Linked DNA regions of Homo sapiens. The protein of the gene in region 3 interacts with the protein of the main gene of each other region in a biochemical or structural test. Each region holds a gene or a part of one and is shown on either strand. Other genes may lie near its edges. The genes, in order: KMT5A, PITX2, LEF1 and RNF138.

The links.
Region 1: the proteins of LEF1 (region 3) and KMT5A form a complex in vitro, tested with the Homo sapiens proteins (one study listed by BioGRID).
Region 2: the proteins of LEF1 (region 3) and PITX2 form a complex in vitro, tested with the Homo sapiens proteins (one study listed by BioGRID).
Region 4: of the proteins of LEF1 (region 3) and RNF138, one has a biochemical effect on the other in vitro, tested with the Homo sapiens proteins (one study listed by BioGRID).

Annotation. Positions count from the first base shown.
Region 1 is NC_000012.12:123,379,426-123,387,135, forward strand, and holds the start of KMT5A (N-lysine methyltransferase KMT5A), read left to right. Parts: upstream 1-4,706; 5' UTR 4,707-4,773; coding exon 4,774-4,783; intron 4,784-7,710. UniProt on the Homo sapiens protein: Protein-lysine N-methyltransferase that monomethylates both histones and non-histone proteins. Specifically monomethylates 'Lys-20' of histone H4 (H4K20me1).
Region 2 is NC_000004.12:110,620,058-110,627,286, reverse strand, and holds the start of PITX2 (pituitary homeobox 2), read left to right. Parts: upstream 1-4,209; 5' UTR 4,210-4,826; coding exon 4,827-5,031; intron 5,032-5,653; exon of another isoform or gene 5,654-5,688; intron 5,689-5,917; coding exon 5,918-6,123; intron 6,124-7,229. UniProt on the Homo sapiens protein: May play a role in myoblast differentiation. When unphosphorylated, associates with an ELAVL1-containing complex, which stabilizes cyclin mRNA and ensuring cell proliferation.
Region 3 is NC_000004.12:108,088,912-108,095,935, forward strand, and holds part of LEF1 (lymphoid enhancer-binding factor 1), read right to left. Parts: intron 347-7,024; coding exon 214-346; intron 1-213. UniProt on the Homo sapiens protein: Transcription factor that binds DNA in a sequence-specific manner. Participates in the Wnt signaling pathway. Activates transcription of target genes in the presence of CTNNB1 and EP300.
Region 4 is NC_000018.10:32,122,863-32,129,886, reverse strand, and holds part of RNF138 (E3 ubiquitin-protein ligase RNF138), read right to left. Parts: intron 6,370-7,024; coding exon 6,313-6,369; intron 5,154-6,312; coding exon 5,042-5,153; intron 3,195-5,041; coding exon 3,087-3,194; intron 769-3,086; coding exon 700-768; 3' UTR 1-699. UniProt on the Homo sapiens protein: E3 ubiquitin-protein ligase involved in DNA damage response by promoting DNA resection and homologous recombination.

The DNA.
Region 1 (7,710 bases), on a different chromosome or scaffold from region 3:
CTGCTGTTGGTGCCTCCGCGGGAGCACAAGGAGGCTGTCTCTGGGAGTGTACAAAGAACCTGGAGACTGAACCAAATACTACTGCCAGAGGCAGTGTTATTACTGAGGGGAACATGCTAGGAATAGTAAGCAAACAGGCAAGAACAAGTCCCCTCTCTTCCTCCTGCCTCCCAGACTGCTTCTATCTGCTCTCATTGGAAGAACCTAACATTAACTGAGAACGGGGAATTATGGTTTGCTGCTCTGTATCACAGAACAGGGTAGAAATGTGGATATTACCCAGGCTGATCTCAAACTTATGAGATCAAGCGATACACCTGCCACGGACTCCCAAAGTGCTGGGATTACAAGCATAAGCCACCAGGCCTGGCCTGCCTTTTTTCCTTATAGCATTAATCACTATTTATAATGATCTTTTGGGCTGGGAGCAGTGGCTCATGCCTGTAGTCCTAGCAATTTGGAAGGCCAAGGTGGGCAGATCACTTGAGGTCAGGAGTTTGAGACCAGCCTGGCCAACATGGCAAAACCCCACCTCTACTAAAAATACAAAAATTAGCTGGGTGTGGTGGCGGGTGCCTGTAATCCCAGCTATCTGGGAGGCTGAGGCAGGAGAATCGCTTGAACCCGGGAGGCGGAGGTTGTGGTGAGCCAAGATCCTGCCACTTCACTCCAGCTTGGGCGATAGAGCAAGACTCTGTCTCAAAAAATAAATAGGCCGGGTGCGGTGGCTCACCCCTGTAATCCCAGCACTTTGGGAGGCCGAGGTGGACTGATCATCACCTGAGGTCAGGAGTTTGAGACCAGCCTGACCAACATGGAGAAACCCTTGTCTCTACTAAAAATACAAAATTAGCTGGGTATCGTGGCGCATGCCTGTAATCCCAGCTACTCGGGAGGTTGAGGCAGGAGAATCGCTTGAACCTGGGAGGTGGAGGTTGCGGTGAGCCGAGATTGTGCCATTGCACTCCAGCCTGGGCAACAAGAGTGAAACTCTGTCTCAAAAAATAAATAAATAAAATAAATAAATTAATTAAATTAAATAATCTTTTGGATGGGCGTGTGGCTCACGCCTGTAGTCCCAACACTTCGGGAGGCCAAGGCAGGTAGATCATTTGAGGTCAGGAATTCAAGACCAGCCTGGCCAACGTGGTGAAACCCCTTCTCTACCAAAAATACAAAAATATGCCCGGGCGCGGTGGCTCACGCCTGTAAGGCAAGCGCTTTGGGAGGCTGAGGCGGGTGGATCACTTGAGGCCAGGAGTTCAAGACTAGCCTGGGGAGCATGGTGGAACCCCGTCTCTACTAAAAATACAAAAAAGAAATAGCTGGGTGTTTTGGCGCATGCCTATAATCCCAGCTACTCGGGAGGCTGAGGCAGGAGAATTGCTTGAACCTAGGAGGCAGAGGTTGCAGTGAGCCGAGATCACGCCATTGCACTCCAGCCTGGGTGACAGAGCGAGACTCCGTCTCAAAAAAAAAAAAATAGGTGGGCATGATGGCACACTCTTGTAATCCCAACTACTTGGGAGGCTGAGGCAGGAGAATTGCTTGAGCCCAGGAGGTGGAGGTTGCAGTGAGTCGAGAACGTGCCCCTGCACTCTAGCCTGGATGACAGAATGCGACCCTGTCTTAAAAAATAAATAAAATAAAAATAATCTTTTAGGCTAGGGGTGGTGGGCTCATGCCTGTAATCCTAGCACTTTGGAAGGCTGAGGCAGCTGGATCACATGATGCCAGGAGTTTGAGACCAGACTGGCCAACATGGAGAAACACTATCTCTATTAAAAATACAAAAATTGGGCTGAGCGCAGTGGGTCACGCCTGTAATCCCAGCACTTTGGGAGGCTGAGGCCGTCATATCAATTGAGGTTAGGAGTTCGAATCCAGCCTGGCCAACATGGTGAAACCCCATCTCTACTAAAAATACAAAAATTAGCCAGCCATGGTAGTGGGCGCCTATAATTCCAGCTACTCAGAATGCTGAGGCAGGAGAATTGCTTGAGCCCAGGAGGCAGATGTTGCAGTGAGCCGAGATCAAACCACTGCACTCCAGCCTAGGGAGACAGAGAGAGACTCCGTCTCAAGAAAAATAAAAATAAATAAACAAAATGATCTTTTTTTTCTTTTTTCTCTTTTTTTTTTTTTGAGATGGAGTCTCTCTTTGTCGCCTAGGCTGGAGTGCAGTGGCGTGATCTCGGCTCACTGCAAGCTCTGCCTCAGCCTCCCGAGTAGCTGGGACTCCAGGTGCCTGCCACCACGCCCGGCTAATTTTTTTTTTTTTGTATTTTTAGTAGAGATGGGGTTTCACCGTGTTAGCCAGGATGGTCTCGATCTTCTGACCTGGTGATCCGCCCACCTCAGCCTCCCAAAGTGCTGGGATTACAGGTGTGAGTCACCACACCCAGCCTTAAAATTATCTTTTAAATAATGCCTTGTTTCTTCCCTAAAAGAATGCAGGGAAGGAGCTGTGTCTACTTTCCCTTCGGATCCTTGGGGGATCCAAAACAGCGGCAGGCATAGAGCTCAATAAATGTTGAAATAATCAATTTTGGAGAAAGCAAACACCTCTCTCTCTATATATATTTTTTGTTTGTTTGTTTGTTTGTTTTGAGACAGAGTCTCGCTCTGGTGCCCAGGCTGGATTGCAGTGGGACGATCTTGGCTCACTGCAACCTCTGCCTCCCGGGTTCAAGCACTTCTCCGCCTCAGCCTCCTGAGTAGTGAGATTACAGGCACGCACCACCACGCCTGGCTAATTTTTGTATTTTTAGTAGAAACGGGGTTTTCACCATGTTGGTCAGGCTGGTCTTGAATTCCTGACCTCGTGATCCACCTGCCTCGGCCTCCCAGAGTGCTGGGATTACAGGTGAGAGCCACTGCACACTGCCACACTTCCACATATTTATGGAAGCTGTAAGGCATGTTGGAGATTACGGCACCAGCTCCTTCATTTGACAGGTAGGGAAATGGAAGGCCAGAGAGCTGAACTGATGTGCCAAGTGACACAGTGACTTTGTGACAAAAGTGTCCTTTTCTACCTTTCCCAGTGCTTTCACATATATCATTTTATTTTCCTTTCCTATTTTCCTGGTGCTTTGGAAGAGTCTTTGGGCAATGGTTGGGTCTCCAAAACCTTTTCAATTACCAAAGAGACAGGATGGATTAGTGACCTCGTCCCACACCCCTGGGAGGGGCCCCAGGGAAGAGCAGTAGTAACTGGACGCCTTCCCTGAGTCCAAAGCAGACACTCCAGGACACCTGATTCTCTGGGAACATACTGACTGAGCCCCCTCTCTCAGAGGGGAACAGCGAATACTTGCTTCCCTCGGGATAAGGTAGCCATTTAGTGTTTGAACAGTGGAGAGACTGACCCAGGCCCTGCAATTACATTGCTGGGTGACCTTGGGCAGCGCGTAAGTGACCCGCTTCCTCTATTGCCCCATCTGTAAAATGGGTGGGTGTGAAGCATTAGGATCTTTGCGGTCCTGGAAGGACCTTCCCTACTGACCCAGTTAGTTGGTAGGAGTTGTGTCTGTGGGTTTTTTTTTTTTTCTTTTTTTGAGACGGAGTCTCGTTCTGTCGCCCAGGCTGGAGTGCAGCGGCGTGATCTCGGCTCACTGCAAGCTCTGTCTCCCGGGTTCACGCCATTGTCCTGCCTCGGCCTCCCAGGTAGCTGGGACTACAGGCGCCCGCCACCACGCCCGGCTCATTTTTTTTGTATTTTTAGTAGAGACGGGGTTTCACCGTGTTAGCCAGGATGGTCTCGATCTCCTGACCTCGTAATCCACCCGCCTCGGCCTCCCAAAGTGCTGAGATTACAGGCGTGAGCCACCGCGCCCGGCCGGGTTTTGAATACTGGAATATTCAATAAACCTTTTTTTTTTTTTTTTTTTTTGAGACAGTGTTTCGCTCTTGTTGCCCAGGCTGGAGTGCAATGGCGCGATCTCGGCTCACCGTAACCTCTGCCTCCCGAGTAGCTGGGATTACATGCTATTCTCCGGCCTCAGCCTCCCGAGTAGCTGGGATTACATGCATGCGATACCACGCCCGGCTAATTTTGTATTTTTAGTAGAGACTGGGTTTCTCTATATTGGTCAGGCTGGTCTCGAACCACGGACCTCAGGTGATCCGCCCGCCTCAGCCTCCCAAAGTGCTGGGATTACAGGCATGAGCCACCGCGCCCGGCCAAAACCTTTCAAACCTGAGAATGAATGGATCAAACTGCTGGAGAGGTCGGTGTGCTGGAGTTGCTAAACTGCTGGGAGACTCAGGTTTCCCAGCTCTTAAGGGAAGATCGAGGGGTCAAAGGTCGGGTTCCGGTCAAGCCCACAGAGAACCGGAAGTCCCAGATCCGGTCGGCTCGGAGCCCAGGGCTCCAGCCGGGCTACTCACGCTCCGGAGGCGGAGCTTCAGCAGCGGGAGGGGGAGGAATCTGGGGCCTCCCAATGGCAGCTCGGGTGTCTTCCATCGCAGCCATTCAACGTCTGGCGACGGTCAAATTTAAACACCCCTCCCACCTCCTCCGCCGGGACCTGTCGGGAAAGCGTTTGCAGTTATTGCGGCGGCTGGACACGCCCCGCCGCCGAAGAGGCGGGAGAAGGGCGGGGCCTTTCTCCGAGTTGGCCTATCACTACGGGCAGCCTGCGGAGAGGCGGGAGGCGGCGCCAATCGGGGCGAGCAGCTGGAGCCCGGCGGAGCAGTTGGCTGAGTTGTTGCAACTTTTTTCGAAAGCTGGGTTTCCCGGGAGATCCCAGGCGGTGACAGAGTGGAGCCATGGCTAGAGGTATTTGCCCAAGTGGCCGGCACCGGAGCGGCTGGGTCGGGGGTCGTGCTGGAGGGGTTGCCGGGGTGGAGGCAGCGGCTGCGGGGAGGCGTCCTCCTCGGGTGGCTCGGGGCAAGCTTGGGGACCCGCGTGGGGGGAGAGGGGGTGCTGCTGCGGAACCCGCCGGCCCCCCCTTGCGGCTCCAGATGCCCCCAGAAACCCTTCCCACTGCCGTGCTTCTGTTTCCCTTCTATGAAGTGAACACCTGCGGGCCTGCCTCTCCACGGCAGCAGATCCATATGTCAGAGCTCTTTGGAAACTAAAGCGCAGGGCACCTCCAGGGAATAGGTGTTATTGATAGAAGTGGGGCGGGGGCAGGAGTGAGGCTTCGCCCACTTTGGGGCCCTCTCTCTTTGGGAAAGGAGGTGATCCCGAGGCGAAGGCGCAGATCGATAACCTGCATATTGGGGTGCGCGTCAGGGTGGACACCGCAGCAGGCGCCTTTCCTCCCTCCCCACGTCCTGAGTCAGCTCTGCGCCGCTGGAGCGAAGGCCGGGCCCCGCTGGCCCACTTTGGGGTAAAACGGGTTCCTGGCATCTCGCGGGCGCGGTCGTTCGCCCCGCATCTGGTCAGGACTTCGCCCCCCGGTAGATGGCTTGGGTGGGCTTGTACAGCCCTGGGAGGCGATGCCCTGTCTGAAGTCCTCTGCATACTTAGTTGGCTGTCAGGACAGTGCCTCCCAGGTATGCGGCAAAGAGATCTCCAACCGCTTGGTCATTTCCAGCCACTGCGTCTCCTTCACGCCAAAGGGCCAAAAACTTGAGCGTGAAAGTTGAGTAGAATTAGTATTAAAAAAAAAAAAAAGTTTTGGTATTATATTTTTCTCAAAATTTCAAGGCTTCAAGTGTTAGTAGGAATTTGCTTTAGTGCAGTATGCTCCCTATAGCAATAATAATGAATAAAATAATGATTCATTCAGTAAATATCTATTGGGTCCCTTTGTTTTCAGGCCCTGAAGTCAGTTGCATCATCTATTCTCCTAGCATCCCTAGAGGTTCTTTTGGGATAAGACTTACCCAGAGCCTGATGAAAAAATGAGGCATAGTAAACTTCAGGTTAAAGAGCTTCATCACTCAACTCTTGGAGAAAATTAATACTAATATTTTTCCTTTGAAAAGTGTTAAGCATCTAAAAGTATATTTAACATTATCTGACTAATTTATCTGACAAATTTTAATAAAACTATGCTTCCTGGGTTCATTTTTCTCATCACAGCAAAATCATTTAAACTACTTGTTTTAAAAGTAGTGCATTAATTAATATATGAAGAAAACTAACCATCTATCATTGAAATACTTAAAATATGACTAAATAATAATTATGGCCAGGCATGGTGGCTCACACCTGTAATCCTAGCACTTTGGGAGGCCAAGGCGGGCAGATCACCTGAGGTCGGGAGTTCGAGACCAGTCTGACCAACATGGAGAAATCCCGTCTCTACTAAAAATACAAAATTAGCCGGGCATGGCAGCGCATGCCTGTAATCCCAGCTACTTGGGAGGCTGAGGCAGGGAGAATTGCCTGAACCTGGGAGGTGGAGCTTGCAGTGAGCCGAGATTACGTCACCGCACTCCAGCATGGGCAACAGAGCAAGACTCCATCTCAAAAAAACAAACAAGAACAATAACAAAATAATAATAATTACCACTGAGGGCCAGGCACTTTATTAACTCAATTGATCTTTACAAATTGTTATTCTCATTTTTTGGAAGAGGAAGCGTGAAGTCCAAACTTGCTGTCCAGACTCTAGCTTGGCTGGGTCTTTGCTTGTGCCACCCAACCTCCCTTACTTACCCAAAGCGAAGATAATGTTTGTCAGCTCCTCCCATGGCAGCTTACAAATCACCTATGTAATTATTAGTTATTGATTCTCACTGTCTCACTTGACCCCCAAATTAGTAGTTACCTGTTTCTTAGGCTTTACTGCCCTTGCAAGCTATTAAATTGGATATTTAGATTTAGATTTTTTTTTTTTTTTTTTTTTTTGAGACAGAGTCTCTCTCTGTCACCCAGGCTGGAGTACAGTGGAGTGATTTCAGCCCGCTTCACCCTCCCTCTCCTGTGTTCAAGTGATTCTTGTGCCTCAGCTTCCCAAGTAGCTGGGATTACAGGCACCTGTCACCACACCCAGCTAATTTTTGTATTTTTAGTAGAGACGGGGTTTCGCCATGTTGGCCAGGCTAGTCTTGAACTCCTGACCTCAGGTTATCTGCCCACCTCGGCCTCCCAGAGTGCTGGGATTACAGGCAAAAGCCACCACGCCTGGCCAATATTTAGAATTGTAAATACCAAATCATTTACAGCACTTCAAATGAACAGTCTTTTTCTTCTAGAAAATTGGGCTTTGAACTTGCAATTCACTTTGAGAGCCCTGCTGGGTCACAGAAACAAACTGGTCAGATGCCAGGCAACACCTCACTCATTTTGAAGTTTTATAATCATGCAAATATTTACAACCCCAATATATTAGTCTCAGGGGTCAGTCCACCTACCTTTCACTATTTCTACTGCCATTGTTGAATGGTCTCTTGGTTGGTTGCCCTCCTCATTTTGCCATCTTCAGTTCATTATCCCTTAGCACCTGGTGGGGGGGTCTCCAAAAATACAGACTTTTCTTTTTTTTTGGGAGACAGAGTCTCACTCTGTCACCCAGGATAGAGTGCAGTGGCACAATCTTGGCTCACTGCAAACTCCACCCCCCTGGGTTCAAGTGACTCTCCTGCCTCAGCCTCCCAAGTAGCTGGGATTACAGGCATGCGCAACCACGCCAAGCTAATTTTTGTATTTTTAGTAGAGACGGGGTTTCGCCATGTTGGCCAGGCTGGTCTCAAACTCCTGATTTCAGGTGATTTGCCCTCCTCTGCCTCCCAAGGTGCTGGGATTACAGG
Region 2 (7,229 bases), 2.5 Mb from region 3:
GGGTACCATTTGCAGGGACCCAGAGAGGGTGGCTGTTGCTCAATATATCTACAGACTTCCAATTCAGAAAATAATCTTCCCCTTTTGACAAGCCAGAGCTTTTTAAATTCCATTTAGGAAATGGGGAAAAGGACAGCTACAGTGAAGCTTTTAATTTCTGGGTTATTTGGTTCCATAGCTATGAGGGGTGGTGGGTAGTGGACTGTTTTCAGCTTGGTTTGTATGCAGAGAAAAGCCAGATATTGGAGGGGGTGGGGCACTTCTCGGGCAGGATGCAAGGTCTCCATCTGACCTCTGCGCCTTACCAGGAGCTCACACACTCACGCCCATCACGTGGCTCCAAGCTGAGTCCAGGCGGGCCTCGTCCTTGAGCTAGCTTGGGCAGGGCAGGACTCCCACCCGTCTAAGGCCTAACAGCTCAGGGAGATGTCTAATTAAGCCATCTTCTGGGTGAACTCTGAAGACAGACTCTTTCCAAAAGTCAGAGATCACTTGGTTGAGTCCCAGGCCAGATTGATACGGAGAGTTTGGCGGCACAGCCCAACCGCTCACTGCCATGGCCAGAGGGACTTTGCACAACTAACACTGAAGAGTGTGAAATTAAATAAGACTTTAAGACTGGTAATCGGTGGCAAATACCAGCACAAAACACGGCTGACCCCATGTCACACATTTCCCTCCTCTAGGGTCTTTCTTTGAAAGAATAAGCAAGAAACCCCAATCGAGACAACCCCTGATGTCTCCCAGACTCAAAACCTCACGCCGGCACTGGGCTTTCCTTCTTTGCCCCACGTGAGCCATGCAGCACCTCTAGTTTCCCTACCAGGATCCCACCAATGTTCTCCGTATTGGAAATTTCTGTGTTAGAGGCTGAACTCATAGTAATTTCTAAAACCAATTAAGAAGAACTTAGCCAGAGGTCACAGTAATGCTGGAATCACAAAATGCATAAGATTTATTTTCTTCTGGCCCCTTTCTCATCCATGCTGCCTATGCCTGTGCACCCACAAGTCTTATGTACATTAAATCTCCAAAATCAACCACCACCATGCCACAGAGTTTTCACTGGACAGTGTTTCTTAGTTCCCACCACATACCTCCTTTTCCCCATGCAGACTTATCATGTTGGTGTCCTGCCACACAGGGGGCCTGAGAAGAATGTCACCCAATCGCCGCTGCTGTGAGTGTGTAAAGTGATTAGGAGATTAGGAGAATGTTGAAACTCCTGCTGGAAAAATGCAAAGAAAATCCTCACTTTGAGTCAGTTGTTTACAGAGCCAGTGTGTGTGTGCGTGTGTGTGTCTGTAATATAAAATGGATGTGAATATATATATACAAATAGATATGGTTTTGCTTTTACTTTAATCTGAATTATCTAGATAATTGTCTTTATTCACCACTTGACTTCAATGGGTCCACACAAATTAGGACACCTTATCTTTTTAGGCATCTAGGCTGCTGCTGATCCCCAGTGCTTCCAACATCTCGCACACGTTGGCACTATGAGGAGCAGTCACGTGCCCTTGGGTTTTTCAACCACTTTGGAGGCTGATTGAGGTCCTTCATACATGTATATTTGTCGTGATGAAAGTTCCATCGGTAGAGTGGAGCCACCAGAGCTTTTATCAAAATTCTGTGGGTTTATGAGAGATGGGTTTAGAAATCTATATGGCTCTGTGGGGCTTCTCGGCTTTCTAAAATAAGGCATTAACACCCAAGCTTCCAAAAATATTTGCAGCTCTGGGGTTTGAATCTTGAAAAACAAGGAGTGAGGGGCTGTGTATACTAACTACAGTGGAGATTTTTTTCATTCTTTAATGTGATGGAGTCCCTTCATGAAATGAAGCTTTAAGGGGCATGGTATTGTGGGGACCACAGCTATTCTGAGGTTTAAAAGAAGAAACTGGAATATGATTAGTAAACACATTCAGCAGAAAAGAGCTGGATTCTTATTGACTTAGTTATAGGTCATCGGCTGGCAGTGCAATGGGAGGAAATATTTACTTTACACATATACTTTATGATCTTGGGGGAATTAGAGGAAATTCAATAAGAAAACGGCTAGAAACATTTAAAACCCTTATTTAAAAGACTTAAGCAAATTAGAGTCTTATCAGATTAAAAACCACTACAAATGTAAGAGCATTGTCTTCAGTGAAACGCTGTGGGGTCTGAGAAGGAGATTCTCCGCCAAATCTCCGGGATAAAATGCGTCATTTAAGCACCAGATAATGAGCAGAATGTAAATTAATTTAACCTTCTTTACCAACAGGCTGCTAGTGTAATGTGTATAATTTAGTGATAAGATTGCAGGACCTAATATAGCTGGATGTATGAGCCTCAGCTAATGCAGACCTGTCACATGAGGATGTGTTTTACTCTGAGCAGGTGTCTGTATGTGTGGAATGGGGTAAAGTGGAATAAAAGGTTAAAAGCAGAAATGCTGATTTAAAGCTTACTATGAAGAAATTCCTCCCTTGCAGCTAAATTATTCTTAAAGTGGGATGATACTGGTGAAGAAAGACTGAAAAACAATTCTCATGTGCGTCTTTGGACTGCAAGTTTAAAATGGGGAGGAGTTGCAGATAGGGTTTGGGGGTGGTCAGGGCAAAGGAGAGACACATAAGTTGCAAATATATTTGTAGTCTGCTTCATCCACTTTGTTCCACATCGAATAAGTTTCCCAATCTTGTGAACAAGGACAAGGAGGGAGTGTTTTAAAGATACTTCATGCTGGCATTGCAAATCATTGACTGTAATGTCAAACAAATACACATTCAGAGATGATAACACTAACTCCATAGTAAAACAATCGCCCATGCAGAAACCCAGAGGAGATTAGTTTGTCCTCTCCAGCTGACCTATGCTGGGGGACAAAAGGACTTTCAAAAATTATTTTGAATATGTTTGGATTTCTTTCTTTAATTTCTTTGGAAATTAAATTTGCTTGGAAACAGTGCTATAAAGAGTTGATGTCTCCAAAGGTGATTTTTTTTGTTTTATATAAATAAGGTTTTGCTTTTGCTAGTTGAGCGCAGTTCTAGGCTTTTCGCCCTTAGCTCACACACACCCCTTCTGCCTGCTTGGACTTTAATGGCTCAAGACAGCCTTGAGCTCACTGGGAAAAGAAAATGACTGTTAAAAATTATCCTTGAAATTGGTTATTTGGCAACATTCTTAATTGTATGGAAATTCATTAAGGCATATTTCATATATAATTAGCTCAAGGTTGTTGATTCTACAGGCTTTATGGATTTAAATCTGATTGATAATAAAGTAAACAAGAGAGTCGAATTTAAAGCGTGGCTCTCTCGGGTTAGGACGAGCTTAATACAGTGTACAAGGAATTTGAAAGATCTAGGATATGTGTCTTAATCAACGTTAAGTAGAATGGATAAGCTTTCAGCATTTTGAAAACGCTGGGTTAGGGTTTCTCTTCTATTGTGTGTTTTCTGTCTGGGGACTAATAAGCATCACAGAGAACGTGATCTGAGGCGACTTTTTATTCTTGTATAAATCCAGAGTGAACCACCAAACAGTTGTTCGTTTAAAGTCAAGGTAATTTTCTTTTGACGGGTCCATTTGCTTCTCGATTTCTAATTTATTAGCCTGCCTTTTCAGGGCTCTGTCTTCTTTGCAATTAAAGCTTCTTCAGATTAGCGCAGCATTCACTTGACAGGCTGTTTGGAAAATTTAAGATCGGAGAGGTGATTTGTTGCTGTTTTTCAAATTTTCTAGTTTTAAGTAACGTGTCTCCTTTTTATATGGGGTGGGGGATTGGAAATGGATGTAGTGAGACACAAAGAGTGGGTGTCTTGTTGATCCTTGTACCTTTCTCTTCTTGACCATTCCACTCTCTTCTCCCAAGCCTTCGACTCCTAGCCTCATCTCTTCACCTTTGGGTTCGTACTAAAAGCCGGATCGCCTTGGGCTGGGCAGGAGCTGAATTCCCGGGAGCTTGCCTGTGTAGACCCAGTGCGCACGGCGAGGCAGTAGCCCGGCCCCGCACTGCTGATAGGTGCAGGCAGGACAGTCCCTCCACCGCGGCTCGGGGCGTCCTGATTGGTGCGGAGCCACGTCAGTCGCACCCGGAGAAGGGTCTGGGAGGAGGCGGAGGCGGAGAGGGCTGGGGAGGGCCGCGGCGGAGTGACGTCTCGGCACCAGGAAGCCCGCCTCTGGTTTTAAGATGTTAGGCCAACAGGGAAGCGCGGAGCCGCAGATCTGGTCCGTCGCTCGCCTGGGTGCCTGGAGCTGAGCTGCGGCAAGGCCCGGCTCCTGTTCGACCGCCCGAGGGGTGTGCGTGTGCGCGTTGCGGAGGGTGCGCTCAGAGGGCCGCGTCGTGGCTGCAGCGGCTGCTGCCGCCGCAGGGGATCTAATATCACCTACCTGTCCCTGTCACTCTTGACACTTCTCTGTCAGGGCTGCCGCGTGGGGGGGGGGCGGGCAGAGCGCGGTCGGCGTTAGCTTTCCTTATTGGAGGGGTTCTTGGGGGAGGGAGGGAGAGAAGAAGGGGGTCTTTGCCCACTCTTGTTTCGCTTTGGAGCTTGGAAGCCTGCTCCCTAAAGACGCTCTGAGTGGTGCCCTTCTGCCCACATCCCATGTCTTCGTTTGCCCGCTGACTTTCCGTCTCCGGACTTTTTCGCTTGAGCCTTCCGGAGGAGACGGGGGCAGCTTGGCTTGAGAACTCGGCGGGGGTTGCGTCCCCTGGCTCTCCCCGCAGCGGGGAAACTCCGCGCCTAGAGCGCGACCCGGAGCGGGCAGCGGCGGCTACGGGGGCTCGGCGGGGCAGTAGCCAAGGACTAGTAGAGCGTCGCGCTCCCTCGTCCATGAACTGCATGAAAGGCCCGCTTCACTTGGAGCACCGAGCAGCGGGGACCAAGCTGTCGGCCGTCTCCTCATCTTCCTGTCACCATCCCCAGCCGTTAGCCATGGCTTCGGTTCTGGCTCCCGGTCAGCCCCGGTCGCTGGACTCCTCCAAGCACAGGCTGGAGGTGCACACCATCTCCGACACCTCCAGCCCGGAGGCCGCAGGTAAGGCGCCGCGCCGCCCTGCAGACATTCCCGCTCAGCTGCTCTGCGCCACCCGCTCCCTCTCGCCCCAAGGAAGTCAGCCCCTCCGGGGGGAGGCGTGGTGGGAGTGGTCGTTCGCCTGGCTCCCCGCAGAACTTCCGGGAGCCGGAATTTTGACTACCCCGCATCCCTTTAGTTCTCCCTCGACCGGCCCGGCTCCTGGGGCGCTAAGGGCGCGAGCAATTCTGCCGCCCTCTCTATTCGTACCCTGGCCTCCCTTCTGTTTCCTGGGTCACAAAAATCCCAGCATCTTGATTCGAGGACCTTCAGAGGCCGCCGACCTCTGTCCCTGTTTTCCTCTCGGCTTTCAGCTCCCGAGGAGCTCCACTCGTTAGGAAATTGCCTGAAACCACTCAGAAATGCCCTTCGCGAAGAGGCATTTTTTTTTTTTTTTTGGGAAAGGGCCGGCGAACTTCGGTGCCCAACCGAATCCCCACATCTTTTCCTAGCCTTCCCAAACCGCATGGAAATCTGAGCTTTCTGCGAGGGGGAGGGGGGTCTGTAAACCACGCGCGTGTGCGCGTCCCAGGAGATTTGGTGTGTCTGCGCAGAGGTGTATAAATATACTTGAAAGCACAGGCTATAAAAGTGAATGTGCCGCTGCAGTGAGATAAACATGTAAATAAAACGTGCGGCGCTGGGGGAGGGGAGGAAATGGGGCGCGGACACCCACACTTGCGCCTGCACACCCCACAGGCGCAGCGCTCCTCGCGGCCCGGAGCCGCCGCGCGCACCCTCCTCCGGCGCCAGGCAGCCCAGCTCTTCCACGGCTTCTGCCGCCGGTCCAGTTGGCGTCCGCGTTGCAGGTGGGCATGCTGACGGGAAAGTGTGTGTGTTTCGTTTTCAGAGAAAGATAAAAGCCAGCAGGGGAAGAATGAGGACGTGGGCGCCGAGGACCCGTCTAAGAAGAAGCGGCAAAGGCGGCAGCGGACTCACTTTACCAGCCAGCAGCTCCAGGAGCTGGAGGCCACTTTCCAGAGGAACCGCTACCCGGACATGTCCACACGCGAAGAAATCGCTGTGTGGACCAACCTTACGGAAGCCCGAGTCCGGGTAGGAGCCAGCACGGAGTCTGGGAGGGATGGGGGGAGGATGTTGTGGAGGTACAGGCCAAGTAGACCAGGAGAGAATGTGGAAGGCAGCGCCGCCTGGGAGGGCGCCGGTGGGGCGCAGCTTTGCAAAGGCAGAAGGCCTCGCGGCGGCCTGGTTGCGAGATTACAGTTCCCTCTCCGAGGCCGACAGGACTGCCGCCCTGGCTCAGGCTCCCAGAGCGGCACCGGCTCACTGCCCCGCCATCCCGCGATCTCACGAGCTGGGCTGCATGGGCAATCCCCTGCACAGGACATTGTGTTCCTGGCTTGCAGTTGCCAGAGCAGAGCTAATAAAATCCCTACCAGGCCAAGAGCCGCGAACAGGCTCCAACCTGTGAGCCTTTAACAAGGAAAACCCGCCAGAGACACGGAAGAGTTGGCCCTCCCTGGGAAACCTTTGTCCCGGCCCTGGCCCAGCTTTTTCCCTCCTGGGCTCGCGCTTCTTACACCTTCTTTACGGTTGTTTCGGCCATTCAGGTCTCTCCCACACACCCTATTTCCTAGTTTTGTGATCTCCGGGAGCAAAGTTTTAATACACAACTACTAGTCCTCTTAGAAGGAGAAAGAAAAAAAGAAGAAAGACTTTTCTGCTTGGTTTATTTATCTTCTCTCAGGAGTTGAACTCTGGAAATTGAAACTCACACCCCCTCTTCTAAATTATAATCATAGTTTTGTAAAAAGGGCTTACCTTAACTTTGTAGCAAATCTGTACTTTATGGATTGGCAAAAATGAGCTCAAATAAATAACCCAATAGCAACGTCCTGGTTTATGCTGGTCGGTGGAAGATTCCAAATTTGTTAGGATTCTGGAAGCAGAAAACAGAATCAAGCAAATCAAGCGGCATCCAGAGGCTTTGCTGTTAAAAAAAAAAAATTAAGTGCTCTGGGTAGAAAAAATAAAGCCCCCGGTTAGAGCAGAGCAAACAAAAAGAAGAAAACAACGATAAAAAGAATAAAGACCAAAATGCTCTCCCAAATCAGAGGGAATGAAGACACTCTCTGGGTGGCATTTGTGCAAGGCATGAGGCTATGCTGGTGGATAAAAGGCCGGGAAGAAGTTGAAAATGG
Region 3 (7,024 bases):
TTTCTTCTGCTTTTTAATAATGCATAATAAATGTAACAGATTCTTGTGTGTTTCCAAAGAATTGCTATCAAATGAATTACTCTTGTCTTGTAAAAACACATTCTGATCCACCCAGTGACATGGAGCACTGGCATCTGGAAGGTCACTCAGGCTGATGAGATTTGGCTCTTCATTTGGCAAAAAAAAAGGGCCTGGAAAGACAGGGACTCTCACCTTGTTTGGAGTTGACATCTGATGGGATGTGTGACGGGTGTGATCCTGGAGAAAAGTGCTCGTCACTGTAAGTGATGAGGGGGGTGAGAGGATGGACCGCATGGGATGGCTGCACCACGGGCACTTTATTTGACTGCAAAGTAACCACAAGGTCAATAGTTAATATGGATGCCCAGCTCCAGTCTTTTCTCCCAAAGAAAAAAATTCACACAGCAGCAGTAACCAGTCATCAACATAACCCAAGAATCACCTTCAGACCTGGACAGGTGGAAATGTCTCTTTTAGAATTTTTCTGAATTTTTCCATGGTAAATACTTCTCAAATATATGAATATGTCACTGATATTCATGAGTTATCAGTTATTTCACCAGTGACTCTTCAGGGATTTAGGTTGATCACTACTCTTCCATATGGCATGAATTTCTGTACATATATATTTATACTCTCTTTTAGATTATTTCCTCAGGTTAAGTCAATAAAGAGCGAATTACAGCAAAATTTATGAATGTTTTACAACATTTGTATTCACTACATATGTCTGGCACAAAAAGCAAAAAACTGTCCAATGAGCAAATAAATGAATAAATATTGCCAATTCAAAGGATAAATTTTTAAACCCAATAAATATAAATTTCCTATACTGATATCCCCTCAGCTTACAGAGTTCATAACTCTATGTTGTACATCTTTAAGAACCATGGTACACCATTCTTTCGAGTTTTATAGCTTTGTCAATCAAACAAGACTAGCCATTATGCTTTGGCCCTCCTCAGTTCATCTTCTGCTTCTCTAGTTTCCATAAACATTAATTGATAAAAAGGAATTTCCAATCTTGAGTTGAACTGCATAATATGAAATACTGTCTTTTTTTTTTGAGATGGAGTTTCACTGTGTCGCCCAGGCTGGAGTGCAGTGGTGTGATCTTGGCTCACTGCAACCTCCACCTTCCGGGTTCAAGTGATTCTCCTGCCTCAGCCTCCCAAGTAGGACTACAGGCACCCGCCACCACATTCAGCTAATTTTTTTTGTATTTTTAGTAAAGACAGGGTTTCACTATATTGGCCAGGCTGGTTTTGAACTCCTGACTTTGTGATCTGCCCACTTTGGCCTCCCAAAGTGCTGGGATTATAGGCATGAGCCACCGTGTCCAGCTGAAATACTGCTTTAATAATATTTTTAATTGTTAAAATTGTATATTTTAACACACTTTATATGTCTTATACTTGTTTACAGACATTTTATTATTTAATTTGGAAGTCAACAGTCACACTTTTTAATTCAAGTTATCTAATTGGACTTCATCAATTTGAAATCTGTGATTACTTTGGTTACAAAGTTAAGGTTGTTCCCCCCAACCCAAAAGTGCTTACTAAGTAATTAAAAAATATAAAGAAGACTTAAGTAGGTTTAACCTAATTAGTAAAATCACTTATTTATTTATTATTTATTTTTTATTGATATGGCATAGCTGTAGAAATTTTGTGGTATATGTGATATTCTGATACCTGTATAAAAGGTGGAATGATCAAGTTAGGATAACTGGGATATCCATCACCTCAAACATTATCTTTCCTTTGTGTTGTGAACATTAAAATTCTTCCCTTCTAGCTATTAAATAATCTATTGTTAGCTACAGTTTCTCTACTGTACATACTACAACTTATTCCTTCTATCTAACCGTATTTTTATACCCATTAACAACTTCTCTAGGGGAATCATTTTAAAGAGACTCAATAAACCCTTCACCAAAGAAAAAGGGACTCAACACAATTATATACCTGTTAAAGGTGTTTGTTTCTGATTTTAAACTAATCTAATAATTAAAGCAGTTGCAGGAAAATCTCTACTTAAAAACACTATAGTAATGGGTAACATGAATTTAAGAGAAAATTGAGCATATCATTATGCTCAATTCACTAGTTCAGACATGTCTTCATCATAATTAGTTTGAATTAGTAAGATCTTACTATATTATTGACTAAAATGCATGTGAAATCAGTTTTCTCCTGAAGCAAATATTCATATTTTTTAAAAATTTGAGGAAGTGCCTAAAACTGCACAATGTGAACTGCTTAAAATGTAAGTCCATATCTGAATGGTTAAAGAGGGCCCCCAAAACACACTTGTGTATGGTGGCTGTACCTACGACATACACTAATTTTGAACTTAATATTTTTTACAAATTAGCCATAAAAAATATGTGGCTCCAATGAGAAGGACTCCCCTTAGAAAAATTAGAATTCTTATACCCTATCTTATAAGAAAAATTAGTAATTCTTCTTATACCCTATCATTACAACCTCCATCCAAAAGAAACTTACGGGGGGGGGAAAAAAAAGGAAAAAAAAATCACACTTTTTTTGGAAAATGATATAATTTCCATACTAGATTTTCCCTATTTTATAATTATCAGCTCTTCTTTAATGGCAAAACTTGCATAGCTCATATAGCTTTTTTGGCGTATATTAAATAGAGTGCCATTATCATAGCCACACAATTTTTCTCTACACACCTCAGCACAAACATCTATGCATATAAATGTGTAAAAGGTTAAACAAATCTTCTAATGCTTTTCGAGTGTTAATGACACAGTTTTCCAAATAACAGAATAAGCTTCTTAAATACATGGAATTTAGAATGCTAGAAGTGGGGGTGGGTAGATGTGAGGATAGGAGGAGTTTATTATGAACTCTTTTGAAAATGGAAACACAAATCTCAACGCCCAAATGTTAAAATCGATAGATTTCAAATATACTTTAGAATAATGGCTTTCAGTTTCATTTTAAAAGTCTCATAAATAAGCATAATTGCCAAACAATCTACAAAGATATTTTCTTAGGGTACTTATAAAGAGTAAACACTGTGGAAATCTTCTGGATATATTCTTTCTTTCCAGAGCACCACCTTAAGGAACTTGCATTAGCAGGCAGCATCTTCTTAATGTCTGACCTATCCCTCCAGTCATATAGCTCAGAATCTGGTGCCATGAATTTTTGCTAAATTATGCTATCCTTGCTCTCCTCTTAATTTTACGGTTTTCAACACAGATTTGCTTTCCTGTGGGAAAGAGATAAGAAGCCGAGGATTTTAATTTAAGCCTGGCCTTGTCTTATATTTTGCAAGATGGATAGCGAAAGCAGTACTAGTAGGTGTGTTAAAGCCAACAAGGATTATGTCCATTTTTGTGGCCAAATAATAAAAGTAATATGAAATTTCAATAGCATGTGTGAGCAGAATTCCAAGGGTTATGGTTTGCTTCCTGCCAACCATCTCCACTATGTATATAAACAGAACAAAGTGGATTCCAACTTACACTGCGGATATGTGGCACATCATCATCACAGTCAAGATTCCTCAGCCCAAAAATCTGCAGGCTTCCTCTGATTTCACAAGTTACTGCCCCTTGACACTATGTGCACACACAAAGTGAGAACCCTGGCACTGCTACTTTGGTTAAGTTTTAAGACAGCCAGTAAAACCATTCTTAATTCCATTCATTTAATCTCCTAATAAAATGTGGTATATATTTTCTTGTGGGGAGTAGGTAAGCGGAAGAATAATCAACCAACTATCTAAGTGTTTGTAGACAAATTAAGTGGCTACATCACATGCAGAGTTATACATGCCCGTGTGCATATGTGTGTATTTATTAAGCACCTAAAATGTTTCAAGCACTATTCTAGCACCAATGACCAACACACAGATAAGGTCTCTAATTCTCGCAGCTTACTTTCTGGGGCTCTGGAAGTGGCGTCAGGCAGCAGGGGGTGGGTATTGGAAACAATGAATATGTAAAAAAAAAAAAAAAAAAAAAAAAAAAAAAAAGACAAGCAAAATCTGAAAAGGCAGCATCAAGTACTATGAAGAAAATGAACCTGGTGATAGGAGAAAGTGTGTATCTAAGTATATGCCTTTTTATTATGTTTAAGCTCTAAGAAACCTAAAGTATATTTAGTAGCTTATTTTAGTTCCTTATTTTAATTTTACAGACTGGAAGCCGAGAAACAGAGGTCACCAGGGAATGGGTAGGTCAAGCCAGGACTACTGTATAAAATAGTACAGTCCTGCTCACTACACAACTCCAGTAACGCAGGGACACTGAATACAATGGGAATGAACCCCCTGGGCTGCCCAATACAGTGGAATCAGCAGTAGAAAAGTTCGATCCTTTTGGCTCTTACTCTGTGCTGGCTACTGTACACATAGTAAGTACCTCACTTAATAGAACCCAAGTCTCCTGATTCCTACTCGGGTGCTTTTCCTACTACACATCTCGCTGTAAGGGAGGGAAGGAGGGAGAGAGGGTAAAAATCACCTGCTTTTTGATTCACAGATACAATCAGGTAAGTCTTAGCTTCCAGTTGAGAATCACCAGGTAGTCCCAATATGTGCTCTGTTTCATTATCCCAGGGTCACAGGATGCACAGTTACTCCAGCTTTACGAGATACCTGGCAGCCCTGTCACCCCAAATTCTCCACTTCTGGTCAGAGGTTCAGTGACTTGTTTAAGCTCACAAGGCAGTAAGAGTTAGGCCAAAACCCTTGGTTTCTGATTCCAACTGCACATTCTTTAATCTCAGGCAGGTGATTGGTGGGTGAGCAAAGGAAAAGACAAAAAGAGTAGATACTTAAAAAAGAAAAAAAAGAAAGAAAGAAAAGGGAGAAAATATCAAGGATGGCTGTTTAGGGAGAAGCTTGAAACCCTTTCTTAAATTTGCAAATCACCATCAGGCCAACCTACCCACATAATACATAGTAATTACAGCAATTAACACTTACCAACTGCTTACTGTGTGCTAAGCACTTTATCCTCACAACAGCTTTGAGGCAGGTACTATTATTATCCCCCTTTTACAGATGAGGAAACAGGCATGGAGAAGAAAATATTCTTGAAGGGTATGTGCTCTAGCAAGCAGCCAAGCCAGGATTCAAATGCAGAAGTCTGGCTCTAGAGGCCAAGCTCATTACCTGTACATCATGTGGCCTTCCTGAAAGCCAAGTTCATAAAATCTTGGACACTGAGGTGACCATTTGGGCCACACCTGAGAGCATGTGACATCTATGAAATGGCTGTGTGGTCTCTGTCCCAGGCACAGGAATCACTTGAGACAAAGAAGCACCTCAGCAGAAGTGGGTAAAGCTACGGAGACTCAACTGCAGCCTTTCTCTCCAGGACTGGAAAACATGCCAAGGAAGCTTGGTTGGCTGCCACCCAGGCTGGTCCCTGCAGGTAAGGACCTCTTTGGCATCACAGCCAATAAAACCCATACCTCCTGTGGACACGAAGTGGGTGCCACTTAGGGATCCTGAGAGCCACCCCCAAAGCAGCATTCCCAGAAATGACCCACTCACCACTGGCAGGAATTGAAGGTGTCATGAAAGCTGTTAGCCTCAGAGGATGTGGTTCTGGGAAGAACTAAAAAGGTGGTTCAACTCCCTACTGGCTAAGGCCTGGGGCCTCCTGGATAGAGGAGTAACTGGGGGAGAAACCTGCTGTCCTGGTAGCTAGTCCTCATTTTCCACATCTCCAGGTTCTAACTAAACTAAACCCAAAGTGCGGGATCTGGCTGTGCATAAAGGTCTGGAGTTTCAACTGGCTGTGCATTTAATCAATAATCTTCTGGTAATAACTGAATCCAGGGGAATTTTAACACTTCATCAACTTATTGAGATGAGGAATTTCATCTGGCCTTGATTGTTATGGTGGCATTTTTGCTTTTCATTAAACACTTCAGAAGTCTGGTACTCGTGACATAAAGCCATGTAACTTCATGCTGCGCCTTTCCCTCCTTTTCTGAGAATCTGAGCTTCTCAAGCCTTCCCAGAAAGAGAGGCAGATTTACTCCAAAAGGATACATTGATTCTTGCATCTAGACCTCAGAAACAAGGTACTGGAAATATTTCCTAAGATCCACCAAAGCCAAACACCTGCTTCAGGTCTGATGTGGCTTTCAAATGTAAGACCCCCTACTGGTGGTGATGCAGCTGCATTTTTCAGATAAGAACGAGGCCCCAGGATCTTAAGATTCAAACGGTCCATGAGCCCAACTCTGGAGGAAAAGGGATGGTCTAGAGACCTGCACCATCATCAGACAACTGAAATGTTTTCTTAAGAGGGGAAGGAACATATCACAGGGAAAGGAATTAACATGGGTTGCACAGTTAGTAAGTACCAGTCATTACAGTAGCGCTTTTATATACTCTGGCACTCGTCCATGTAAGTGGGTATTATTACCCCCATATTTATAGATGAGAAGGCTGAGTCTTTTTGAACACAGAGCTAAGTAATAATTAGTGGAGAGAGGATCTGTGCCGGCATTTGTTTGATACCAAAGTCCCTGCTCTTCCTGCCCCACACTGTTTGGTGCTCAGCTCCTCTCTCCATCTCTATTCCAAACTACCCCCCAACCAAGTGAATGTGGCCTGCTGTGGCCTCAACTGTAATGAAGCATCTAGAGAGGAACAGTGGACCACTTGGAGAAAACTGATATTACCAGAGGCAATCAGACTACAACAGAATGCTGGAAGGGCTCCCTTTTAAAACGCATGGAAAACCCACTATTCTCCAAGTTCTCTGTAAGGTGGTGAATTCCAAACATTACGTCATTTAATCCTAAAGCCATACCTAAGTTAGGTGTTAAGATTTCTGTTTTATCGAGAAGGAAACAAGGCTCTGGGAATAATTCATTCTGGGAGCCAAAAGGAGACCCATTGTTTTCAGTAACTGGAGCCTGTAAATAGAGGGACTGGGGTTAAGGTTAGAGGCTGAGGAAAGATCAGGGTAAAGGAAAAATGACATCTAATTATGTAA
Region 4 (7,024 bases), on a different chromosome or scaffold from region 3:
AATCAGTCAAAGACTGAAATTATCAAATGCCCATGAAAGAAAGAAATTTTTCTCTTTGTATTTCCTTCTAATAACAAAAAGAAAATATCTTTACAACAAGCTTTCACTTTTTAAAGAATTAAAATTATTACAGAAATCTCACTAGTCTTCAAAAATAGTAAATGTTATATAAATACAATTTTCTTATAGTTGAATTTTTCAGCTAGAACCTGCATTTAAAAAATTTCCTTTGGATTATTCCATTTAGCACTTCAAGTTTCTATTCTGCAACTCTAATAATAACTGGCTCAGATTTGTTAGGTTATATCAATCACATCGTTCAAAATTTGCTACTGTGTGTTAAATGTGTACAATAATAAAGTAAATGGGAGGAATGCATCAAATTTCAAAAGCAACATAATAATGAAAAATTCAAAAATAATATTACAAAAAGATAAAGTACAACAGGGATTCTCTTTCACCGTTACATTAGTGAAACATCTTTTTTACACCTTTAAAGCTAATGTCATAACTTTCATTTTTTAACTTATCAAGATGATGAAGTTTTTAGAAGCCCTACCTTTATTTTCAATCAAAAACTAAAATGACTGAATTACTTTTATTAATATACACATCAAGTTACTGTAACGGTGACTTCATGTAGTTTCCCCCTTAAAGATGGCACTTGCAGGTACAAAGATGCAGAGATGTCTACAGCCTTCAGATGTTTACTTGAAAAGATTCTTCAACAGCAGTTTGGTATTGGGTTTCTTCATCTAGCTGAAGATTCTAAAAACAATAACATTCATGTCAACAGGAAAAACATATTCAACTACTCTAATACTTTGCCCAAAACATTAGACATCTTGATACACATTACACATCTTGACACACATTACACACACTCAGGACAGTTATGTAAAACATATATAACAGTATCTTTTAAGATACAAGATTTGAATACCTGAACTTTAATAAGACATTAAGTTCAGTTGTAACTGTTCAAGAATAACAAACAAACAGAGAGGATCATCACAGAACAAAATTTGAGTGTTATAATGCCTTTATAAGTCATTCATAAAAAATATGGTTAACTGGAAAGCTGGGTAAGCATGCGCCTGTAGTTGCAACTATTCAGGAGGCTGAGGCAGAAGACAGTTTGAGCCTATGAGTTTGAGGTCAGCCTGGGCAACACAGGGAGACTGTCACTTTAAAAAATAAAAATAAAAAATGAAAAATAAAACTGAAGTTAATCATAACACACAATCATAAATGTGTCATCTCTAGAAAATAATGCCAAATATCTGACAGTAAACTGATTTTAAGAAAACAAGCATTTATTGAATTATGAGTTGAGTAAGAAATTTTTTGGGGGGCAGTTTGGCTCTGTCACTCAGGCTGGAGTGCAGTGGCACAATCTTGGCTCACTGCAACCTCCACCTCCTGGGCTCAAGCAATTCTTGTGCCTCAGCCTGCCAAGTAGCTAGGATTACAGATACGTACCACCACACCCAGCTAATTTTTGTATCTTTAGTAGAGACAGGGTTTTGCCATGTTGGCCAGGCTGGTCTTGAACTGCTGACCTCAGGTGATCCACCCGCCTCGGCCTCCCACAGTACTGGGATGACAGGCATGAGCCATCATGCCCAGATGAGTAATAAATTCTTAACCATAACATGAAGCCTACAGCTTATTCAATCGTTATAAAACTACTCCTTAATTTAAAAAATTATATTTGCTATCAATTTTATGCCCTATGCATTTCGCTTTAAAATCAAGGCCTCTATTTGACAATCTGAAATAATTAGATCACCTACTTTTCTTTTTTGAGACGGAGTCTCGCACTGTCACCCAGGCTGGAGTGCAGTGGCGTGATCTTCACGCACTGCAAGCTCTGCCTCCCGGGTTCATCCCATTCTCCTGCCTCAGCCTCCCGAGTAGCTGGGACTATAGGCACCTGCCAACACACCCGGCTAACTTTTTGTATTTTTAGTAAAGACGGGGTTTCACCGTGTTAGCCAGGATGGTCTCAATCTCCTGACCTTGTGATCCACCCACCTCGGCCTCCCAAAGTGCTGGGATTACAGGTGTGAGCCACCAAGCCCTGCCTAGATTACCTACTTTTCTATGGCAAGATAAAACAACTTGACAATTAGATCAAAAGTGGTTCACAAATTTTTGTATTTCCAAATACATTACATAGCAATCTTTCTTACAATGAGAATTTAATAATAATCTAGAATTACTTTATAAAATTGCTAAAGCAATAAAGCGCACCTAAATTTTACATATATTTGAATTTTTATTTTGAAATTGGCTAAATAATGCAAATTCTACAAAATTTAAAAACCATTTAACAAGAATGATGTAATTTCAACACTGGAAGGCAGACAAAAATGTATATTTTGTTCATGTCACTCTGCTTACCTAAACTGGAAAACAAATAGCCATTCTTTGTCAGGACTAATCTTAAATAAAGTTTTGATTAAACTGAAGTTGAATAAAATGCAATTTAATAATTAATAAAACAGGTTTTCACCTAATTAAAAAAGTATATCACACATTTAGAAGTACAAATTAATCCATTTTGCTTTATGAATTCATTTTTACATTATATAACTTCTCTTACACTCTTAGTCTCTTTGTAACCTGGCTTTGCCTGATAACTAAGCTCCCTCATTTTTAAAAACGTTGTGTCTTACATGCTAGATTTGAGAAATCTAAGATTTCTAGCATAATACAAGCAACTTATACTACATGAGAAATACATCCTCCATATGTTGTACCAATTTTACTTCTCTTGTAGGTACAATTTTCCCTTAAATCTTGACAGAGTTTTCATGTAAATCATCATTTTGTTAATCTGGGTGCTTGCTGTTACTCTTATTAATTCTCTCTCTAGTACAGGAGGTGGAGAGTAAACTCAATTTTTACCTTACCATTTCTACAAGCTAAAGTTCACCAGTATTATTAAAAACCTAAGAACTTGCTCTAAATCCATCCAGTAAGATACAACAGCTTGCCACAAAATTTAAGTCGATTACAAAAAAGTTATTTTAACTTTAATATTTAAACAGTACTTTCTTAATCTTGAAGAATTCACTTACCACAAATTCTCCATAATCAAATTGATGTCTCTGATTTAGATGACTAACGAAATTTCTGGTAATCTGGCTAGGATCTCCCCAAGGAAGAGACACACAAATAGGACATGTCTATAAGAAACAGATTGTTTTAAACAAAAAATAATAAAAACAATGAAATATTATACAATTGACAGTATTAAAATAACACAGGGATATGTTACCAAAAATATCTACGTGAGAAGCATTTTTAAAGGCCAAGTTCCATGACTAGATCATTTCCCAATCAATTACCTTAGATAAATGACATTAATCTAACACAGTGAGAAATCTTAGACATTCTATTCCTTAAATCTCTTATTACACAAATGTTTCAACAGAAAAACCACATCTAGCTTTTAATAATACCAACTGTAATGACAGTTATCACTAACTGGCTGCCTGCAACATATCCAATATATTATCTCATTTGATCCATACAATAACCATATAATTATTATTAGTTTTATTTCATTTGTAAGTAAAATAAAAATGAAGTAAACTGGAAAATTTACTTTAAATTGTATCCTTAGTTTTTCTTTTCTTTTCTTAAAACTAGAGACACAGTCTCACTGTTGTCCAGGCTGGGTCTCAAATTCCTGAGCTCAAGCAATCCTCCCGCCTTGGCCTCCCAAAGTGCTGGGATTAAAGGCATGTGCCACCACACCCAGCCATATCCTTACGTTTAAATGAAGTACATCTTAAAAACTGAATGGATAAATAACTGAAATAACACACAAAAAACCTTCAGTAATTAAACTCTAGCCAAAGTTTATGATATATCGAATATTATGCAGAAATGAATAAAAATTTGGTAATCCAATATAAAACTAAGTAAAATCTTAAATATGAGCGAGATTTCCTGGAACATCTTTGGCACTGTATTTGTCTATTTAAGCATAACTGAACCCATTCTAATAAGCAAAGTAGGTAGTACACCTTCTTAGGTGGTATGTGAGAGCTTAAGGTCATCCTCAATGGTTATTGAAGCATATTCTTTTTATTTTCTTTATTTTTAAATAGACAGGGTCTCACTATGTTGCCCAGGCTAGTCTCGAACTCCTGGGCTCAAGCAATCCTCCCCTCTCGGCCTCCCAAAGTGCTAAATTACAGGCATGAGCCACCGTGCCCGGTCCTGAAGCACATTCTTTCACAACTTTTCCTAGCATACTCACTAAAACAGCTTAGAAATATCTACAGTTCTTATTGATAACATTTTCCTTCCTATTCTCCTTTCTGAAGACAATTATTTATATATCAAAATGTTCAGCTGAAAGGGAAATCTCTCTCCCAGCTCAGTTTCTCCTGTTCCATTCACAGCTGAAATAACTTACCTATGAAACACTTCTAGGATCATTATATGTTGGAATCCTGAATTCTGCTCTATCTCCCTCATTATCAAAAAGCTCTCACCATTTTCTTACATACCCTCAAAATGTCAAAAAATATGTAGGCATCAAATACAAAGTCTAAGTCTTTTCCTTCCTTGCTTTATGCATTCACATACTATATGCTGCAAGAAAACAATAAAAATACCTACTGACTTTATTCTTACTTACAGGTATTTTCACCTACAGCAATCTACCTGACTAGATCTACTTGTCTGCCATCTACAGAGCAAGTAACTGAGGCCTCAATAGACAGGTTGTGCTACTGCGCAGGAATGAGTTCCCGGTTCATCTTTCATTACTTCACTCTTCTCCAGACTGTGCTATATTACCTCACACTATGCATCTCCCTTTTTATAATGAGAGTTACTGCAATTTTAAATATCTCATTTTGCTTCACAGTCATCAATCCTTTGTTGACAAAAATCTACCTTACTGATAATGCCCCAACCAAATATAAATCAACTACTTTCTCTTGCATACATGAAGTGAAATAAATAGAACAGCATGTTTTATTCTAAGCAGAAGACTGTCTCAAACGTATGTACTTACCACAGGAACTATCTGAAATAGGTGATTACTGTTACAGTGATCCAGTAAACGCTGTCTGGTAAAATTTGATTCTTGACACAGGGGACACTTAAAAGTAGGATGACCAGAAGAACTATAAAACAATTTTAAGTGAAACATACTTAATTCAGAATAACACAAAAATAACGCTCTCCTATTTTTTGAGGAATCACTATACATTTTTTAAAAAAGTTATAATTATTAGACTATTCAAAGATTCTCTCATTTTGAACATATGTATTCAGGAAATGATGCATTACAGAGGTTCCCAATCTCAGTTTACAGTACTCTTAGTGTCCTCAATAAATTTTTTCATGGCACCTCTAGGCCAAAACAAAAACAAAAACAAAAACCTAGCTGACTCCATATATTATGTAGTTAGGTCCAAACTTAATTGTAGTTGTTTTCTGATGCCAATAGCTGTCACTGTATGTCCCTTGAAAATTTTTAATATTCTGTAGTATTCCACATTTTGCAAACCTTTTATCTAGGAACTTAAAACTTCTAAAAGACTTCCATCAATATCGTATCTCTAATAAATACCAGGCCCTAGGAATCCAACATCCAAAATTCAAAGGAAAAGAAAAAACAAAAGCACTGATCATGAGAATGAAATACTCGAAAACATTCTGAGGATCAAGCATCACTGAGTTTTAATACTTCTGAATTTCAGGAAGGGACAGTTCAACACAGACAACTTTACCTGAATCGTGTGTGGAAGAAACCTGACCACAGTGAAAGAGAATAACTAAACTCTTCTAACCTAATGTGATTCTTAAAAGCAGTAACTGCATTTTCTATTTCTAAACTGCTAACTTCAAACACTATGCCTAATGATGTAACTGATTTTTTTTTTTTTTTTAAGTTTAATTTATGGCCAGGCGCAGTGGCTCATGCCTGTAATCCCAGCACTTTGGGAGGCCAAGGCAGGTGGATTATCTGAGGTCAGGAGTTCGAGACCAGCCTGGCCAACATGGTGAAACCCTGTTTCTACTAAAAATACAAAAATTAGCCGGGCGTGGTGGCAGGCACCTGTAATACCAGATACTTGGGAGGCTGAGGCAGGAGAATCACTTGAACCTGAGAGGCGCAGGTTGCAGTGAGCCAAGATCGCACCACTGCACTCCAGCCTGGGAAAACAAAGTGAGACTCCGTCTCAAAAAAAAAAAAAAAAAGTTTAATTTAAAAAGCTATTTGATAAGTGATAAATATAATATTACTTGCTAAAGTGGCAGGATTTTTCAAAAGCTTACCTTGTATTCTCTTGGTAAGTTTCTGTGTTATCAGATGTGGATGTTTCACTCCTATTGCTTAAGAAGCACAGGGGAAAAAGTTAATACCTCAAAGTAATGAAAACACACTAAAGGTTCATTATCTTGAACCATTAATGAAGAAGACTAGTCTGAATTTGTTTTAAAAGTCTGAACTTCAATACACCTTTTTCCTATTGGGTCCTTGAAAAAACAAAATTTGAACTTCAAATGGTTCTGAACTATGAAATAATTACAATATTAATTACTTTTAAATAAATTGACTGCTTACTAGATTCTTATTTATGTTCTTTAAAATTAACTTATGCACAGTTACAGAAGTATAGAGAATTTTGCAGAATTACCTTAAATCCCATTCCTCTACCTTTACCTAGACTAGTAAGGTTTTAAATGCTACGGTAGACTCAAGAATTTGTGAACTTTTTTACTTCAAACTAGGACATGGTATAAGGTTATGCCCTCCAAAGTGCAGTAATTTAAGAAAATATGTAAATGTTCATTATGTTTGTATTTTATTTCCAGAAAGGAAAGAAACCAGGCTTCACTAACATTTAATATACAGAACAACTTAACATCTCCACTTTTACCATATGCCAGAGAGTCATGTGTCACATGGAATATCAGAGGAATCCTGAGGGAAGAGTAAGTATTCCATACAGGGACCGTCACCTGTGTGCTACAGAATTTGATCAAT